Linked DNA regions of Homo sapiens: region 1 is linked to region 2. The links come from fine-mapping of genetic effects on plasma protein levels. A gene starts in region 2. The other region holds a variant in brackets. All regions are shown on one strand. Distances are from middle to middle. Region 1 overlaps ARHGEF10 (Rho guanine nucleotide exchange factor 10). Region 2 holds the start of ARHGEF10 (Rho guanine nucleotide exchange factor 10).

Evidence for each region. PIP is the chance, under the fine-mapping model, that this variant and not a neighbour inherited with it causes the effect. Protein levels are from antibody-based Olink assays in UK Biobank. Linkage for the fine-mapping came from a reference panel and not from the study's own genotypes, which makes the PIPs less certain.
Region 1: its variant is fine-mapped to the plasma level of the ARHGEF10 protein (UK Biobank, PIP above 0.99).

Annotation. Positions count from the first base shown.
Region 1 is chr8:1,859,022-1,864,164 of GRCh38, reverse strand. It overlaps ARHGEF10 (Rho guanine nucleotide exchange factor 10), which reads right to left. Exons shown (of 29, transcript NM_014629.4): 4 at 3,981-4,268. Among named protein-coding and RNA genes, the nearest start is that of ARHGEF10, 38 kb to the right of the region's middle. The variant T/C (reference allele first, on the strand shown) is at 408.
Region 2 is chr8:1,819,235-1,827,748 of GRCh38, reverse strand. ARHGEF10 (Rho guanine nucleotide exchange factor 10) reads right to left here and starts at 3,823. Exons shown (of 29, transcript NM_014629.4): 1 at 3,636-3,823.

The DNA of each region.
Region 1 (5,143 bases), 38 kb before region 2:
CTTGTGAAACAGCCAGAAATAAACTGCACCAGCACCCAAATGCATCAGGCTAGAGTTAGAAAGAAACGGGATGTTCTCTCCCACTCCACATGTGCATGGGAGCCACGGCTGTGACCGGCACCCAGATGCATCAGGCTAGAGTTAGAAAGAAACGGGATGTTCTCTCCCACTCCATGTGTCCACAGGAGCCACGGCTGTGACTGGCCTGAAGGGGCATCCGCCTGGCACGCTCAAAAGATGTTCAAGAGAGGAGTGGTTACGCTTGTGACATGTGACACCAGCTTTCACTGGCACACGCTCACATCCCTCCACACGCAAATACACGCGCAGTCCGACCCGCCTGACGATTCCTCCCTGCCTGTCTGTGGCTCTCCAGGGTGAACGGTGAGCCGTGAGCAAAGCCGCAG[T/C]GCAGGTTTCCCAAACATTCCACACAGGTGGGGTACGAACTTAGACCATCCAAGGACAGCCTGAGACGCCAGTGCAGAAGAAGCAGACCCTCCCACCTCGGAGGGCTCCTGGGCAGAAGCCAGCCAGAGTCTGTGATGGCTGTACTGCGTGGGTGCGGGCCACGTGGTCCCTTGACGAATCTGCCACCGCCCAGCCGCGTGGCACCAAGAATGATGTGGGGAAGGAGAGCCAGCAGCACTCAGCGGCTGCTGCTCATCGCCACACTGGCAGCTGTCCATGAAACACTTTCTAAAGGGAATTTATCTTTGGAATGAGCAACAGTTCTCAACCGTTTTCAAACCGCAGCAGTTGGCTCAAAGTCGGAGACAGCTGAGCTCGATGTAACCTGCTTGGAGGTCTCATCCCTGAAAACAGGTCCCTGGTCACACCAGGAGCTGCCACACAGCTGGATGCTGACTAGCAACAGACACGAGATGCCCGAGGGGCTGGGGGGGTGGATCTGCGGGTAGCGCTGCAAATCCCACATGCATCTGCTGGTTCAGTGTTCCGGGCCACCTTCCTGAGTGGCAGGTGTCAGGGCAGACACAGGGCCAGGATCTGAAATCCAATCTGCCTGCTCCAAAAACTGCCCTTCCCACACTGCCACACTGCCTCAAAGAAACACCCAAAGATCCAGCTGGCCGCGGTGGCTCATGCCTGTAATCCCAGCACTTTCGGAGGCTGAGGCGGGCGGATCACGAGGTCAGGAGATCAAGTCCATCCTGGTCAACATGGTGAAACCCTGTCTCTACTAAAAAAAAAATACAAAAAATTAGCCGGGCGTGGTGGCGGGCGCCTGTAGTCCCAGCTACTTGGGAGGCTGAGGCAGGAGAACGGTGTGAACCCGGGAGGCGGAGCTTGCAGTGAGCCGAGATCCCGCCACTGTACTCCAGCCTGAGCGACAGAGCGAGACTCTGTCTCAAAAAAAAAAAAAAAAAAAAAGAAGAAGAAAAAAAGGAAAAGAAACACCCAAAGAGCCACAAAGCTTTTACTTGTGTTTTGCAGAGGGACAAAGGCAGGACGTGCTGCCCAGCAGCAATCTCGCTGCACGGTGAGAAATGTCTCCCCCACGGGGGTGTCCAGGAGCACAGACTCCCATCCCCAGAGCACACACATGAGCCCTCTCAGGGCTCCACCCCAGGAAACTCTTCTTTCCTCCGCCTTCCGGGAAATTAAGGTGCAAACTGAGTCTGTCAAGGTCAGAAGGAGGCAGACACGCTGGCCAGGGAGTCGCCTAAACAGCTCCGAGCAGCAGCGCACCCAGAGGCTTCTGGCCACAACAGCCCGTGCGTAAACAAGAGCAGGACCTGCCTGTGGACGTCTTTGAGAGCTGGTTTCGGTAGGCAGGAAAAATAACGGAATCTGGTCATCCCAGTTTGGCCAGCTGGGAGCTCCAGGCAGGGCTCTGCAACCTCCCACCGCAGGCCTGGGGATCCTGGCTGGGCTGTACGTCCCGGGGAAGCCCTGCAGAGCCAGGCGGCCGCCCCGCCCCAGGGAGGCTCCAGAGCAAGGAACAGAAAAGCCAGCAGTGCCACCAGGCAGGAAGTGTGGGCCAGGCTGGGGACCGGGCCTAACACCAAATCCACGCTTTTCCACCTCCCAGGAAGGAGGTCTGCGTTCACATCCCTCATTCAATGATCAAAACGCAACCGGAGAACCACCTGCTCCTCTACTCCGGGACTTAAAATAGTCTTTATTAGAACAAGGCTTTATTACTGGCTCTAGGTTGACAGAACAAAAATAAGCAAATTGTTTTAAATTCATGCTAAGTTATTTTAAAAATAAATTAAATGATATGCAATTATTTTAAATAATCAAATAATATTTTAAAATAAGAAAATCACTTTAAAACAAACGTATTTTCCTTCAGCCAAGAATCCTACACTCTGCACGCCCTCATTTCCAGGGGGTTCTCATGCTCCGCGGTCACAGAGTGACAACAGCAGCGTGGATCATGCAGACCGTGGTGAGTTCCGAGGACTCTGGCCGACTTCAACAGGAAAACGCACAGGAGGCCGTCTATTCTGAAACCTCTGTGTTTCCCAAAATCCAAAATTGAGATTTTTCTTTAAGGATTTTTTTTTCTCAACTGTTATTAACTGGAAAGGGAAGGCTGCTTCCACTGAAACCTTTACAGGAATAAGAATCATGTCTCAGGCGTAGAGGCTGTGGGCTTCCATTAGAGGAACATCCCATGAACCCTGGGAATCCTGCAGCGCGTTCCTGGGAAAGACAGCATAGAAACAGATCTGGGCAAAAAAGGAAAACTTCGGCTGAGACGCCTCGACTGGGTCGCTCCTGAAGACAGAGGCAGGGTATGTGCTTACCCTCACCCTGGCGCCTGGCCCTACAGCAGGGCCGGCAGGAGGCCCCAGCCCTTGGGCTGCAGTCGAAGCAGCCACGGACTGCACGCTGTCCTTCCAGCAGAACCCTGTGGCTCTGCAGACACAGCTGGTGCGTGACTACACATGGCAGGGCCATGTAAGGACAGCAGAGAACGGGCTCCACCAACCAAGCCCCTTCTAGAGCACATGGCCACTCCTTCTCACTAAGTGGAGGAGGAAGCAGACTCGAAATGGAGCTGTCAGCGCTGAGGACACAGAGACCGGAGGTGAGCGAGGCACCCACGAGGGCACCCACAGTCCTCGCTCGGAGCATGTCCTGGCTACAGGGAACACCGTCCTCAGTGGCCGACTCTGAGCCCTTTGTGCTGCCCCAGGTGGCTCTGACCTTCCACTGAGGACTCTGCTGAGATCCTGCGGCATCTTCCCGGCGAGGAAAAGCATGAGTGGGAAACAGGGAGCCCCTGAGGCAATTCTCCCACCCCCACCACCCCTCCATCCTCTGGAATGAAGACAGCGAGACACACGCTTTGACCCCAGGGAGTCTGAGTCTATAGACAAGCAGGTGACACGGGACATACATAACGGTAACTGTCATCTAGCACAGTAAGTCATACAGGCCAAAAACTGCACACACTCCCGTGAGCAGCTGGTGGGGGAATCAGAGATCGGGGTGAAGTTCAAGGCACCCCAGACATGAGGGGGCAACACATTCGGCACCAGACGTTGTTTCAAAAATTTCCAAACCATACACCCTGGCCTTCCCTCAGTGGTGTTCCTGTCACTGAAGATGAACTAGGGGCTCATTTTCCAACTCTGTAAACAAACATCTAATGACCTGGGTGGGGGCAGGGGGAAGGTCAGGCCCGGACTCTACGGAACCACAGGCCACATCAGGGGCATGGAGAGGAGGAGGAGGGAAGGTCAGGCCCAGACTCTACGGAACCACAGGCCACATCGGGGGCATGGAGAGGAGGAGGAGGGGGGAAGGTTAGGCCCGGACTCTACGGAACCACAGGCCACATCGGGGGCATGGAGAGGAGGAGGAGGGGGGAAGGTCAGGCCCGGACTCTACGGAACCACAGGCCACATCCGGGGCATGCAGAGGAGGGAACCACAGGCCACTTCGGGGGCGTGGAGAGGAGGGAACCACAGGCCACTTCGGGGGCGTGGAGAGGAGGGTAGCAGTACCTTCTTCGTCCAGGGACGTGGCGCAGATGATGACCGGGCTGGAGTAGGCGGGCAGCAGGAGGGGCAGGTTGGAGGGCACCGCATAGCCGCAGGGTACAGGCACCAAGTACCCGCAGGGCACATGGAGACCCACATTCTCCTCCTCAGCGCTGGGCACGGGGGTGGGCGGCTGGTCCTCCTGGAATGGCGTGATGTCGATGACAGAATATGGGTTGACTTTCATCGGGAGCACCAGCTTAGTAGGCTCTGCCACTGGGGTGGTTTCTGCTCCAGCTCCATCCTCACCTCCTGGGGATGCAGAAAGGACTTGTCAGCAGACACATCACCAAGGGCATGGCAGGCATGCCCTCCTGGAGCGCAAGTGGGAAGCAGGTATGAGCTCCCACCATCATCCCATGCCAGGACCCCTAGACGTTCCCAGGTCATCAGGTGGCCTCGGAGGGAGCACTCACACATGGGGAACCCAGCATCACCTCTGGGCACAGGTGAGACGGATGCAGCCTGGTCACTACAGGAGGCTCATCCCATGAGCTAAGTCAGGGAGAAGCTGCCGGAGGAGGGCAGCTGCTCCCCTCACCAAGAGTCTGGTGCTACACACAAAGAAACACCATGCAAGCTGAGAGGCGGGTGCTGTGCACAAAGAAACGCCATGCAAACAACCGAGAGGCTGATGCTATGGCCAAAGAAACACTGTGCAAACAACCGAGAGGCTGGTGCTATGCACAAAGAAACACCATGTAAGCAGAGAGGCGGGTGCTGCGCACAAAGAAACACCGTGCAAACAACCGAGAGGCAGGTGCTATGGCCAAAGAAACACCGGGCAAACAACCGAGAGGCTGGTGCTATGCACAAAGAAACACCGTGTAAGCAGAGAGGCGCGTGCTGCACACAAAGAAACACCATGCAAACAACCAAGAGGCAGGTGCTATGGCCAAAGAAACACCGGGCAAACAACCGAGAGGCAGGTGCTATGGCCAAAGAAACACCGGGCAAACAACCGAGAGGCTGGTGCTGTGCACAAAGAAACACCGTGTAAGCAGAGAGGCGCGTGCTGCGCACAAAGAAACACCGTGCAAGCAGAGAGGCGGGTACTATGCACAAAGAAACACCGTGCAAACAACCAAGAGGCAGGTGCTATGGCCAAAGAAACACCGGGCAAACAA
Region 2 (8,514 bases):
TTAACAAAAATATAAAATACCAACAACCCCCATATAGCACTTTCTACTGGCAGGCCTGCTTTACTCTAATGATACAACAAAAAGCAGGAAATGGCAATGATGGAAGGAAAGGAAAAATCCACGATTTAAAATGATCATTTTGACGGGGCATGCAGTGGCTCACGCCTGTAATCCCAGCGCTTTGGGAGGCTGAGGCAGGTGGATCACTTGAGGTCGGGAGTTCAAGACCAGCCTGGCCAACATGGCAAAACCCGTCTACTAAAAATACAAAAATTAGCCGGGCACGGTGGTGGGTGCTTATAATCCCAGCTACTTGGGAGGCAGAGGCAGGAGAATTGCTTGAACCTGGGAAGCAAAGACTGCAGCAAGCCGAATCTCTCCACTGCACTCCAGCCTGGGCAACAGAGTGATACTCCATTTCAAAAAAAAAGATCACTTTTTTATCAAAATTTGGAAAACTACTCACAGAAAACAAACAAACAGAACCAAAACCAATGTCCAAACCTGACAACTATGAACAGGCTGAAGCAGAGTAGGGTGGCAGATGTGGCAGAAGTGTGTGTGTATCAGCGTGGGGGCTGGTGGCAGGGCATTCTCCCTGGGCCCCTTTGCCACACCTGTCCTTACAGGTAACCCTGCCCCTCCCTAGACGGACCTGGGGCTGTGGCCCTGTCTGCCACCCAGGCAAGGACCCCTGCTGGTCACCGGCCTCTGCTCTCCCTGCCTCTCAGACCCTTGGCAGCCCCTGGGCCTGGCCCACCCCTTTCCACTGCAGAGCTCCCAGAACCTTCCAAAATTACACTCCCAGAAAGCCTGGTTAAGGGAGAGAGCTGAAGTTCTCCCTCATGAATGACTAACAGCTACGCTTCCCTTCTGTCTTATTTCACGCCACTTACCTTTCTACCCAGGCAAACTATAAGCAACGCACGCATGAAACACAGATTCTCTGAGCATCTCCAGATCCGAGCTGTTCTTTGCATGCTTCCTGCCACACACTGTGCAGTAAACAATGACGGGCCTACAACAGCGCTTTCTTACATCTCACTATGACGTTTTCACATCGCTTACAGAATACAACCGTCATTAGCGCATTTCCAGTTTGCTCTAATTTATGCCAAACATCTTTGTTTTAAGCAGCACTTCCCCATACAACGCCTTCTAGCAACTTCGTAAGTGAGCACCCTCAAGTCCCGTGAGAAGTCTGGACTCACAGGGCCAGGGAAAAGCTTCCCCACCTCAACCCAGGTCTGTAACTCCACACCCTCCACACCACCCAACGCCTCTATCTACAACTCACACACGCGCACACACACACACACAAAGCGCACACACACACAGCACACACACAAACACACGCACACACAAACGCACACACATGCATACAAACACAAACACATACACAAAGACACACGCACACGTATGCACACACAAACTGCAGAGGAAAGGCAGCACACCAAAGCACCCAGAAGACAAATGTGGTTACATCTGGAAGTCAAGCATCAACTTTTAAAAACATAAAAAGCTATTCTGAATAACTTTTAACTTCACTTCACCCCCAACTGTCTACAACTAATGAATTACAAATAGCACCTTATACAAATGACTTTTCTTACTGCTGAGAAATCCTGGAGGTCTCATCTGTCTATAAAGAGTTATGCATCCGTAACTGCCGATGTTGGCTGCTAAAGCCAGCAAATAAATGCTGTGAGAGACAGACAGGGACAAAGTGTGTTTTTAAAAATACATGACGTGTAAACCTCAGTAATCATCTCTCTTTTCGAATAAAAATTATTTTCTATAAAGCAGGTGTTCAAAACATATTATTAATCAGCAACAGTGAAATTGTTCCTCCTTGCAGCATTCCACCCATATGGACATTAAGTCACTCCTGCACAGAATCTAGAATACTGACCAGTCCGTACTCAGGTTATGGTTAACCAGAGAAAAGAATTAAAACCCGTTACATCTTGAGTCAATGAGAATTTTTACTTGCAGCCAAAGTTAGTGACTGGAATCAATATCAGACAACAGCAAGTTCGTCTACTGCTGCCTGGGAACATGACCTACTGGCCACAGTCGGGAGGGGTACTCAGACCTCACCTTCAGTGCCCAGGGGCCCATGGAAGGGGAGTGGGGCTGGGACAGGTGGGCAGGGCGTCTGTGGACCTAGGGCAGTTTCCTCAGAATCTACCTTGGCTTCTTGGGCACCAGCGGGCTGTGGGGTGCAGGGGAACAGGTGGAGTACGGGGGGGACAGCTGGGGTGCGAGGGACAGCTGGGGTGCAGGGTAAACAGGTGAGGTGTAGGGGGACAGGTGAGGTGCAGAGGACAGGTGGGGATCAGGGGGACAGGTGGGGTGCAGGACAGTTGAGGTGCAGGGGACAGGTGGGGTTCAGGGAGAGAGGTGGGGTGCGAGGACAGGTGGGGTGCGGGGGAACAGGTGGGGTACGGGGAGACAGGTGGGGTGCGGGGGGACAGGTGGGGTGCAGGTGAACAGGTGGGGTGCGGGGGACAGGTGGGGTGCGGGGGGACAGGTGGGGTGCGGGGGGACAGGTGGGGTGCGGGGGGACAGGTGGAGTGCGGGGGGACAGGTGGGGTGCGGGGGGACAGGTGGGGTGCGGGGGGACAGGTGAGGTGCAGGGGGGACAGGTGGGGTGCGGGGGGACAGGTGGAGTGCGGGGGGACAGGTGGAGTGCGGGTGAACAGGTGGGGTGTGGGGGGACAGCTGGGGTGCAGAGTAAACAGGTGGGGTGTGGGGAGGACAGGTGGGGTGCGAGGGGACAGGTGGGGTGCGGGGAACTGGTGGAGTGCAGAGTTAACATGGGGTGCTGAGGGACAGGCGGGGTACACGGGGTGCGGGGAACTGGTGGGGTGTGGGGGGACAGCTGGGGTGCAGAGTAAACAGGTGGGGTGTGGGGAAGACAGGTGGGGTGCAGGGGGAACAGGTGGGGTGCGAGGGGACAGGTGGGGTGCAGAATAAACAGGTAGGGTGCGGGGGGACAGGCGGGGTGCGGGGGAATAGGTGGGGTGTGGGGGGGACAGCTGCGGCGCGGGGGACAGCTGGGGTGCAGGGTAAACAGGTGGGGTGCGGGGGGACAGCTGGGGTGCGGGGAACTGGTGGAGTGCAGAGTGAACAGGGGGTGCTGAGGGACAGGCGGGGTACACGGGGTGCGGGGAACTGGTGGGGTAGGGGGACAGGTAGGGTGCGGGGGAAAGACGCCGGCTTTCCTTACACCGGTCCTTCTCTGCATCCTGAGGCGGACCGCATTCTTCTCCTTTACCGGAAAATCTAAGTTACTGCACGACCCCCCAGGCGAAGCCAGCTCGCCCCTCGGGCTCCTTCCGCCGATCGGAGTTCGCTCCTGCCCCTGGGGCCAGGGGTCCCTGCTGCCAGTCCCTGCTCCCCCCGCCCAGGCCCGCGCCGTTATCCTGAGGGGCCGGGGGCGCCGCGGAAGGGGGAGCTGCTCGGGGGGAGGGGGTCTCAGCCCCTTCCCTGAAACATCTGCGCAGGGGGTCGGGGGCGCAGCCACCTCCGGGTGGGACCCAGCGATTTCGGGGGAGCCGGGCAGAAGTGCAACTCTCAAAGGAAACCAGAAGCCCGCGAGGGGACCCACGGTCCGCGGGGCCCGCACTCACCTCGGCGGCCAGGACGCGACCCGCAGTCCCCTGCTGTTCCCCGCCGTCCCCCGCTGTTCCCCGCCGTCCCCCGCTGTTCCCCGCCGTCCCCCGCCGTTCCCCGCCGTCCCCCGCGTCCCCCGCGTCCCCCGCGACCCCGTCCGTCCCGGATCGCGCGCCCGCCGGCTACAGGGATGCGCCCAGCCCCTCCCGCCCGGACGGCCTGCTCCACCCACCATGCTGTCATTGGCGGGCCCAGACCGTTCCGGGCGCCCATTGGCCGCAGAGCCTGCCGGTTTCTCGGCAGCGCCCTGCCCTCGCGCCCGCGCATTCCTTCGAGGCCACGTGGCCGCCCGCGCCCCCTCCCGCTGCCCAACGCCCGGCCCAGGCTGCGCACGCGTGGGAGGGGGCGCGCGGCAGAGGCTCCCGCCCCCGGATCATCTCCTGCCCCGCGGACCCCGGGCCGCGCTCACTTCGGGAGGGGTCGCTGGGCAGACCGAGTGCCCTCCCCGCCCCCAACATCTGGATCCTCCCCGCAGAGCCTGCTCCCGGCTCAGAGCTGCGCCCCTTGGGGAGGGTGCGCCGGGCAGACCCTAACCCTCTCCCAGAGCACCGCCCTTTCTGCGGACCCCCACGGGCTGAGCTCACCTGAGGGAGGGGGCGTCGGGCAGACGCTCCCCCCCCCAGAACATCGCCCCTCCCTGCGGACACCCGGGGTGCGCCCAGCCGAGGAGGGGGCGTCGGGACCCCACCCGACCCGCCCTTGAGCCCCCGTCCCTCCGTCCGCAGCTGGCCCTGCCCACAGGGCGTTCCGGGTCTTCCGCGCCAGCTGCCCTGGACCAGCCAAGGCTTGGGCGTTTGGAAATGCGATGACTTCAGCCACGTTTCCGAGGCAGTTTTTGAAGCTTGCTTCTTGCCAGGAAGCGCTCGTTTTTCCCGGGACCTTTCCAGGGAATGGCCCCTTCTGAGTTATTGGAATTGTTTACTTTGAGCATTTATTTGTCTTATACTTTTAAAAAGGAAACAGATTATCGTTATAATTACTATTAAAGAAAAAAAAAAACGAGAAACAAAGACATTTTTAACCAAAATAACTAAAGGATGTTATCTTTTACCTGGTCAGCACATTTAACAAGTGTGTTCGCAGATGCTAGATTTATTTCTATGCCTTCTCCTACCCAAATCTCCGAATCATAGAAGTAATTTTAAGTCAGTGTTTTAGAACTGTCAGACTTCTTAGAGATTTCTAGCCCCTTTCACTTGTTTTATAGAAGAAATACAAACAGCTATTTGGGATGCTAAGTATCACGAAATTAATCTAAACATTAACTGCCCTTAAGGCTTGTGTGCTCTGGAATAAGTTATTTCCCTGAAAATTTTGGACTATGTAAAAATCATAGCCAACATAGAAAGACTACAATGGCTGGAAAAAATAATCGTAGGTAAGGTGATATTTTTTCAATGTTTATTATTCACACTTGCTAATTTTATGAAATCAGACTGAGTTGTTTTTATGAATCAATTGAAAAAGGTATTTGCTCTCAGCGACCTTAAGATTAGAAAACTTATTTCAGGTTTCTATTCCTAGGGTTCTCTGGGTACCTTATTCAGAGATCTTCTGCACAGATCAATGGTCAGATCAATGGTCTTGATCAACAGAAGTAAGAAGGTCAACTAAATTAGTTCTTGTTTACCTAAATACGATGAGAAAATCCTGATACTTGTAGTGTTTTCTAAAAAGGTAGAGATAAGAGGAAATAGTCCTGTGTATGGAATAAACAACTCATTTTCTCAATGGATGAAATTGAGCCCCTAAACTCAGGGCCGCCAGGGACACCACTGAGTAGGGCCACAGAGCAATGCCTTCCAGGCAGGTTGGGCAGAAAATCCCCTGATTTGGAGCTCCAATAGATCCTGTCTGTCTGCTTTATTCAGGCGTTCCTCACAGATACATCCCTATTTTCGTAAGCCCGGATATGGAAGAGTTGGGATTTTCCATTGTGATTCCCTCTTTGACCCATGGGATATTTAGAAAAGTTAGGTTCACCTTTCAAATATATGGGGACTTTCTGGTTTTCTTTTTATTGTAACTAAAGTTTAATTCCACCGGGCCTTAAAACATCAGCTGTTTTATTTTTGTCGTTTAAGATTTTCAAACACTTGCTTCATGGCCCAACATTGTCTATTTTGGTAAATGTTCTATGAGCACTTGCTGAGAACATGCTTTCACTGACATAAAGTTCTACAGATGTCAATTAGGTCATATTTGTTACTGATTTTTTTATCTACTTGTACTTTTTATCTACTTGTACTTTTTATCTACTTGTACTGATAAGGGTGTATGAAAATCTTTGACTCTCCGTAGTCTATTCAGCATTGTCCTGCAGCATCTAACAAGTGTTGTAGGTCATAAAAACAAAAAGTGTAAGGATTGAGGGAGGAAAAACTGATTATTTACAGTCAATATGATTATATATGTTAAAAAACAAAATTATCTACAAATAAACTATTAGGATTAAAATAGAATTTAGGAATTTCAGATGGATCATAGACTTAAGTGTAAAAATTATAAAGTTGCTAGGATAAAATATAAGAAAAGATCTTACGGATCTTCAGGTAAGACAGAAAATGGACCGACCATTTAAAAATGATTAAATGGCTTATCAAAATTTAATATTTCTACTCATCTCATGACATCATTAAGAAAATGAAAAGGCAAGCCACAGACTGGGAGAACACAGGGGCAATGCATATATCCCACAAATGGCTTGTCTTAATCCACGTTGTGCTGCTGTAACAGAATACCTGGGAATGGGTGATTTACAATGAAAAGAAATTTATTTCTCACAGTTCTGGAGGCTGGGAAGTTCAAGATCAAGGAGCCACATCTGGCAAGAACCTTCGGGCTGCATCATCCCATGACGGAAGGTGGGAGGCGGAGGTGGGGAGGGAGGATGCAAAATGGGCCAAACTTATCTTTTTTTTTTTTTTTTTTGAGACGGAGTCTTGCTCTGTCATCAGGCTGGAGTGCAGTGGTGCGATCTCTGCTCACTGCAACCTCCGACTCCCTGGTTCAAGCTATTCTGCCTCAGCCTCCCGAGTAGCTGGGATTACAGGTATGTGCCACCACACCCAGCTAATTTTTGTATTTTTAGTAGAGACGAGGTTTCACCCAAACTCATTCTTTTATAAGGAGCCCACCGCCTCAGTCATGGCATTTATCCATCCATGAGGGTCATACCCCCATGACCCAGACACCACCTAGTAGGCACCTTCCAACACTGCTGCATTGGGGGTCAAGTTTCCAACACATAAACTTTGGGGAAAACGCGTTCAAACCATAGTCCTGGTAAATAGAGAACTCCTGCAAATGAACAATAACAAGACAAGTCTATTTCAAAAGGGACAAAACAATATAACAATAACAAGCCTGTAAATAACAATAACAAGTCTATTTAAAAATAAACAAAAGACGTAAATACTTCACCAAAGATGTACTGATAGCCAACAAGAACAGGAAATAGTGCTCAGTGTTACCCAAAGTAAACTCACAATGAGATGCCACCACCGTCATCCAAGCACGGCTGAAACTGCAGACCGACATGGCAAGGGTAAAAATGTGGAGCCCCTGGAACCACTATACAAGGCGATGAGAGTGCAAATGGCGCAACCACTCTGATTAATTGTTTGCCCATTTCTCAGCAATCCCACTTTTAGGTTTGCCCAAGGCAAGTGAAAACATAAGTCCCTTAAAAGACTTTTACAGCCAGACATGGTGACTCCCACCTGTAACCCCAGCACTTTAGGAGGCCAAGGTGGAGGATTGCTTGAGCCCAGGAGTCTAGCATGATAGTCTCCACCTCCAGTCCCAGCTACTTAGGAAGCTGAAGTGGGAGGATCGCTTGAGGCTGGGAGGTCAAGGCTGTAATGAGTCATGTTCACCACCACTGCACTCTAGCCTGGGTGGACAGAGCAAGACCCTGTCTCAAAAAAAAAAAATGATTTTTACAAGAATTCTTTCTTCAAAACAGTTCAAATACTTCGCAACTGGAAACAACCCAAATTCCATCAACAGGTGAACTCATAAAGTATTGTATCTTCATAGAATAATAGAATACTAATAATACAGTAATAAAAAGGAAGAAACTGATATGTTCAATAACAATGAATCTTGAAAACATGAAAAACATAGACAAAAGGGCACATATAGTATGATTCAATTTTTATGAAATTCAAGAATGTGCCAAACCAACCTATAATAATAGGAATCAGAACAGTGGTTATTTTTGGGGGTATTGTCTCAGAAAAGACAAAGGAATTCTGGGGAGTGATGAAAACGGTGACTACATCTTGATTTGATTTGCAGACACATGGGTGTGTTCACTTTGTAAATAGAATCAAGCCGAACACAAGAGTAAGCTACTTCATGGGATATATACAGTGGCCTCAATGCATCCCCCTTGATGACTGAAAGTTCATCACCAACGTGATAGCAGTAAGAGGTGGGGCCTTGAGGAGGTTAGTGGGTCATGAGGGATGGGCTTAGTGCCCTTGTAGAAGTGCCAGGGGGCTGTTCACCCCTCCTACCAGTGAGGGCACAGTGCTCAAGGTGCTGTCTTGTGAGCAGAGACCAGGCTCTCCCCAGACACTGAACCTGTTGGCACGTTGATCTTGGACTTCCCCACGTCCAGAACTGTGAGAAATAAACTCCTGTTGTCTATAAATGACCCAGTCTCTGGTGTTTTGTTACAGTAGCAGGAACAAATTAAGTTATGTATCAGCAAAAAGGGGTTTTAAAAGCTGGGTTCCTTTAAAAAAATAATGATTCCCTTTATTGACGGAATACAAAATATCCCTTAATTAATTGCAAGCAAATTAAGTGCAAGGCCCATGCAGAGGG